Homo sapiens: one gene and its partner. Changing the gene in region 1 together with any one later gene gives a genetic interaction. Each region holds a gene or a part of one and is shown in the gene's direction. Other genes may lie near its edges.

Evidence for each region.
Region 2: changes in ACACA (region 1) and SBDS together harm fitness less than expected from each alone (positive genetic interaction), as found in Homo sapiens cells (one large-scale study listed by BioGRID).

The regions. Positions count from the first base shown.
Region 1 is NC_000017.11:37,396,750-37,400,406, reverse strand, and holds part of ACACA (acetyl-CoA carboxylase 1), read left to right. Parts: intron 1-3,657. UniProt on the Homo sapiens protein: Cytosolic enzyme that catalyzes the carboxylation of acetyl-CoA to malonyl-CoA, the first and rate-limiting step of de novo fatty acid biosynthesis.
Region 2 is NC_000007.14:66,989,727-66,992,586, reverse strand, and holds part of SBDS (ribosome maturation protein SBDS), read left to right. Parts: intron 1-1,285; coding exon 1,286-1,450; intron 1,451-2,860. UniProt on the Homo sapiens protein: Required for the assembly of mature ribosomes and ribosome biogenesis.

The DNA.
Region 1 (3,657 bases):
GGCTCACACCTGTAATCCCAGCACTTTGGGAGGCTGAGGCAGGTGGGTCATCTGAGGTCAGGGGTTTGAGACCAGCCTGGCCCACATGGTGAAACCCCATCTCTACTAAAAATACAAAAATTAGCCAGGCGTGGTGGTGCATGCCTGTAATCCCAACTACTCAGGAGGCTGAGGCATGAGAATCACTTGAACCCGGGAGGCAGAGGTTGCAGTGAGCCAAGATTGCATCACTGCACTCCAGCCTGGGCAACAGAGCAAGACCCTGTCTCAAAAACAAAAACAAACAAACAAACAAAAATATATATATGCTTGAAAATTGCTAAGAGAGTAGATTTTAGTTGTTCTTACCACACAAAAAAATAAGTATTTGCGGTAATGGGTATATATTTGAGGTAATGGATTTGTTAATTAGCTTGATTTAGCCATTCCACAATGAGTACATCTATCAACACATGTTGTACATCATGAATATACACAATTTTTATTTGCCAAAAAATGTTTAAATATGCCATAAGTAAATTAAATAAAATAAATTTCTTAGAACATTATTTATAAAAATAAAGCAAAAAACCAGATCTGTCCAAATATAACTAATAAACTGACTCTCATTATTTAACACTCAAGAGTTGGCTGGCATCAGGATTTTCATAATACCATGGCCATTAAACAGTTTTCGTGAATCCAGGCCTTCGTTACCCATCTCTTCTGCTTCTTCCTCACCTTACTGACTTCTTTCTCATGTACACAGAGTGCGGAATATCTGTCTCATGAGTCACCAGCCTTTGGGCAGAACCCAAAAAATTAGGTGAACTAGAAATATATTGTTGCTAAGTGGCTCGGTTTATCAGACAATTCTAAAATGCCTACTAGGCTGCCTAGCTGCATACTTTTCTGCCTAATGTACAGGACCTCCATCTTGTGACTGTCAAAACAGGCTCCTAAATTATTTTGCATCATTTGGTGACAGGCAGTCTATACTCTTGTGCAACCAACAGGTGCCCAATAAATGCTTGGAATATGCAAGGAACTTGGCATTGTTTAATATAATTGAAAAAGCAAGCATGGACTTTGAAACTTTCCTGAATTTGAATTCTGTCTCCACTCCTTATCACCTTTAAGAATTTAGGGCCTGGTGCGGTGGCTCATGCCTATAATCCCAGCACTTTGGGAGGCTGAGGCGGGTGGATCACTTGAGATCAGGAGTTCGAGACCAGCCTAGCCAACATGGTGAAACCCCATCTCTACTAAAAATATAAAAAATTAGCCGGGCATGGTGGTGCATGCTTATAATCCCAACTACTTGGGAGGCTGAGGCAGGAGAATCGCTTGAACCCAGGAGGCAGAGGTTGCCGTGAGCCGAGATCCCACCATTGCACTCCAGCCTGGGCAACAAGAGTGAAACTCCATCTAAAAAAAAAAAAGAATTTAGGGAAGTTATTATCTTCCTGCATCTCCTTTCTCCTCCTATGTAAAATGAAAATAATAATGTCTAATTCATAAGCGTTTCATAAGGATATGATGAAAGCCCGATGCAGTAGCTCACGCCTGTAATCCCAGCACTTTGAGAGGCTGATGTGGGTGGGTCACTTGAAGTCAGTAGTTCGAGACTAGCCTAGCCAACATGGTGAAACCCTGTCTCTACTAAAAATACAAAAACTAGCTGGGCATGGTGGCAGGCGCCTGTAATCCCAGCTACCCGGGAGGCTAAGGCAGGAGAATCGCTTGAACTCAGGAGACTGAGGTTGCGGTGAGCTGAGATCGTGTCACTGCACTCCAGCCTGGGCAACAGTGCCAGACTCTGTCTCAAAAAAAAAGCCCGGGCATGGTGGCTCACGCCTGTAATCCCATAATCCCAGCACTTTTGGAGGCCAAGGTGGGCGGATCACCTGAGGTCAGGAGTTCGAGACAGCCTGACCAATATGGAGAAACCACATCTCAACTAAAAATACAAAATTAGCAGGGCATGGTGGCGCATGTCTGTAATCCCAGCTACTCGGGAGGCTGAGGCAGGAGAATCACTTGAACCCAGGAGGCGGAGATTGCAGTGAGCTGAGATTGCACCGTTGCGTTCCAGCCTGGGCAACAAGAGCGAAACTTCGTCTCAAAAAAAAAAAAAAAAAAAAAAGTGATACCACAACAGCTAGAAGAGGAGGCCAAACTGTTTTTTTTTTTTTTTTGAGACAGAGTCTCGCTCTGTCACCCAGGCTGGAGTGCAGTGGTGCGATCTCGGCTCACTACAACCTCCGCCTACCTGGTTCAAGTGATTCTCCTGCCTCAGGCTCCTGAGTAGCTGGGAGTACAGGCGCGCGCCACCACGCCCAGCTAATTTTTTGTATTTTTAGTAAAGACGGGGTTTCACAGTGTTAGCCAGGATGGTCTCAATCTCTTGACCTTGTGATCCACCTGCCTCGGCCTCCCAAAGTGCTGGGATTACAGGAGTGAGTCACCGCGCCCAGCCCCCATTTTACATTTTTTTATTTGTGCCCACTGCCTTTTTTCAGAGGATGCAGTTAGCAATTTCAGCCACTGGATGGTGCAAATTCACAAGAGTCCAGTGAAAGTTCCTCAATTACGGTCCAAGGTGCACCTGTTGCTACACTGCACCAAGTGAAGGAGGGTGGGGTAAAGGAAAGACTTTTTGGATCTGAAATTTCAGTATAAACATGGATCGAAGTTCACTAGAAGTTCAGATTGAGGGAAATTTTTAGAATTTGATCACTGACAAATCAGGTCATTGAATAAGGAAAGACAAAAGAAAAGTGTTGTAATAATGAAGAGGAAGAGAAAAAGGAACAGATGATGAAATATGAGGGAAAATAAGTCTAAAGAGATGAATTCAAGTGTTAGCAACAATTATAGTATGACCCTTTACTGGTTTGCATCTCCCTGGTAACTGATAGCAACTTTGATATAAAAATAAAGCTTACTTCATTCTCTTCTAGAAAGTCAGCTATGCTACCCTTAGCTTATCCATTTGGTGGTGTGACATTATCAACAAATATTTTTAGTATCTGCTATGAACATGGTGCTTTGTTGATACAAAGTAATATAGAGATATACAAATTAACACAGATACTGGGCTTCAAGCAGAAGAACCAGTAAGTACATATAAGAAGATAAGTAATTGACTGGATTAAGAAAATGTGGCACATATACACTATGGAATACTATGCAGCCATAAGAAAGGATGAGTTCATGTCCTTTGTAGGGACATGGATGAAGCTGGAAACCATCATTCTGAGCAAATATCGCAAGGACAGAAAACCAAACATCGCATGTTCTCACTCATAGGTGGAAATTGAACAATGAGAACACTTGGACACAGGGCTGGGAACATCACACATCAGCGCCTGTCGTGGGGTGGGGGGATGGGGGAGGGATAGCATTAGGAGAAATACCTAATGTAAATGACGAGTTAATGGGTGCAGCAAACCAACATGGCACATGTATACATATGTAATAAACCTGGACATTGTGCACATGTACCCTAGAATTTAAAGTATAATACTACTACTACTATTACTAATAATAGGGAAGATAAGTAATTCAAGGCAACCTGAGGGCCATTGTGTCAACTCAGAAAATGGAATACTTTTTGAAAGTGGGAGTGGAGTATCAGTGGGATGGGGAGGAAGGGATCATAGGACTCTCAACCTG
Region 2 (2,860 bases), on another chromosome or scaffold:
ATATGTATATAGGACTTTCTTCTTCCTATCCAAATCAAACTTTTAAAGACAAAACTTGAGTTTTTAAAGGGTCATTTTAACACTTCTTTTTGAATTTTTTAATTTATATATAATTCACATACCATAAATTTCACACTCATAAAGTATGTACACTTTAAGTGGTATATTAACAAAGTTTTGGAACCTTCCCTGCTACCTGGTTCGAGAACATTTTCATCACCACAAAAAGAAAGTCAGTATCCATTAGTAGCCATCCCCCATTTTCCCCCCACAGGCCCCTCCCAACCACTAATCTCCTCTCGTTATGGACTTCTCAATTCTGGACATTTCATATAAATGGAATCATACAATATGTGGCCTTTTCATGGTTCATACATGTTGTAACCTGCATCAGCATGTCATTTCTTTTTTATGCCGGAATAATAGCCCACTGTACGGAAAGAAACACATTTTGTTCATTCATCTATCAGTTGATAGACATTGGGTTGCTTTCACTTTTGAGCTATGATGAGCAATGCTGCTATAAAATTTCTTGTATGTTTCTGTGTAGACATATGTTTTCATTTCTGTATACCTGGTGACTACCAAACCTATTTCTAAAACAGCTGCACCATTTTACTTTACCACCATCAGTGTTTAAGAGTTCAGTTTCTCCACATCCTCAGTAATACTTGTCATTGTCTGCCTTTTTGATGATGGCCATCCTGGTGGTATCTTGTCGTGGTTTTGATTTGCATTTCCTTAATGATGATTTGAGCATATTTCCATGTGCTTATTGGTGCCTCGTCTGTCTTCTTTTGAGAAATCTCTGTTCAGGTTCTTTGCCCACCCCCCCCGCCCTCTTTTTGCAAACTCTGCCTCCCGGATTCAAGCAATTCTCCTGCCTCAGCCTCTTGAGTAGCTGGGATTACAGGCGTGCACTACCACACCCGGCTAATTTTTCTTTTTTTGTATTTTTAGTGGAGACGGGGTTTCACCATGTTGGCCAGGCTGGTCTCGAATTCCTGACCTTGTGATGCACCCGCCTCGGCCTCCCAAAGTGCTGGAATTACAGGCGTGAGCCACCACACCTGGCCTTCACTTTCTTCATAGTTTTTTGAAACACAAAAGCTTTTCTTCTTGATAAGTCCAATTTTTCTATTTTTTTTTTAACGGTCACTTATGTTCTTAATGTTATACCTAAGAAACCATTACCTAATCCAACTACATGGAAACTACTTTGTTTTTGAAAACCTTATGAAATAATATAGTAGAAGAAATTGCATTCTCGATTTTGTCTTGGTAGGCTTTGGAAGTGATAAAGCAGTTAAAAGAGAAAATGAAGATAGAACGTGCTCACATGAGGCTTCGGTTCATCCTTCCAGTCAATGAAGGCAAGAAGCTGAAAGAAAAGCTCAAGCCACTGATCAAGGTCATAGAAAGTGAAGATTATGGCCAACAGTTAGAAATCGTAAGAGTCAAATATTTTCTTTGCTTCATGTTACCTAAATATTGTATTCTCTAGTAATAAATTTGTAGCAAACATTTAGATGTTGTAAACGTCAGATATTTTCTTTTCTTTTTTTTTTTTGAGATGGAGTCTCGCTCTGTTGCCCAGGCTGGAGTGCAGTGGTGCTATCTCAGCTCACTGCAAGCTCCGCCTCCCGGGTACACGCCATTCTCCTGCCTCAGCCTCCTGTGTAGCTGGGACTACAGGCACCCGCCACCAAGCCTGGCTAATTTTTCGTATTTTTTAGTAGAGACGGAGTTTCACCGTGTTAGCCAGGACGGTCTTGATCTCCTGACCTCATGATCCACCTGCCTCAGCCTCCCAAAGTGCAGGGATTACAGGCGTGAGCCACCGCGCCCAGCCAGATATTTTCTTAAGACTAAAGGTTGGTCAGCCTTGTTTACCACAAATCCTTTTATTTTTTTCCCAGCATTTATTTTTGTCATATATTATGCGTAGTGTTTTAGATACATGATTTTAGCAAATTTAGCAACTATTTAAAATAAGCCACTTAAAAATTGCTATTTTAGTGGAAGATTGATAATTCCAATTACCTTAAAAATTTTGCAAAAATTAGTACAAAGCACACTATGGAAATTTACATTGAGTTTTCAGAGATAGCTCAATTGCATGCTTTACTCCAGTGCTGATCATAATCCTAAAAGACAATCCCAAATGCCACAATCCCAATGTTGAAATCATAAAAAAATCAAAATCTCTAAAGTCCAAAGCCTGAACTTCTAATATCTTGAAAATCACAGTTCCAAAAGATTGAATCCTGGCTGGGCGCGGTGGCTCATGCCTGTAATCCCAGCACTTTGGGAGGCCAAGGCAGGTGGATCACCTGAGGTCGGGAGTTCGAGACCAGTCTGACCAACATGGAGAAACCCTGTCTCTACTAAAAATACAAAATAGTCTGGCGTGGTGGCACATGCCTGTAATCCCAGCTACTCGGGAGGCTGAGGCAGGAGAATCACTTGAACCTGGAAGGCAGAGGTTGCGGTGAGCCAAGATTGCACCATTGCACTCCAGCCTGGGCAACAAGAGCGAAACTCCATCTCAAAAAAAAAAAAAAAAGATTGAATTCTGAATGATGAAATTCTGAAAGCTGAATTCTGGCAAAAGGATTAGCACTCTTTGAGTTGTATGCAGGATAGTCGCGTCTGGTTAATTGCATCATGTGAGGAAAAGCTAGGACCTTGTTATTGTCTTCATTTGAAAATTAAAAATGGTTTAAAGAGATGAGTCTGGGTGCCAAGTTGATAAGGGGTGGAATTGTGGATGTAATTTTAGGTGTCAACTTGACTGGAAAGGAATCCCTAGAAGCCTGATAAAGCATTGTTTGGGGTATGTCTGTGAGGGTGTTTCCAG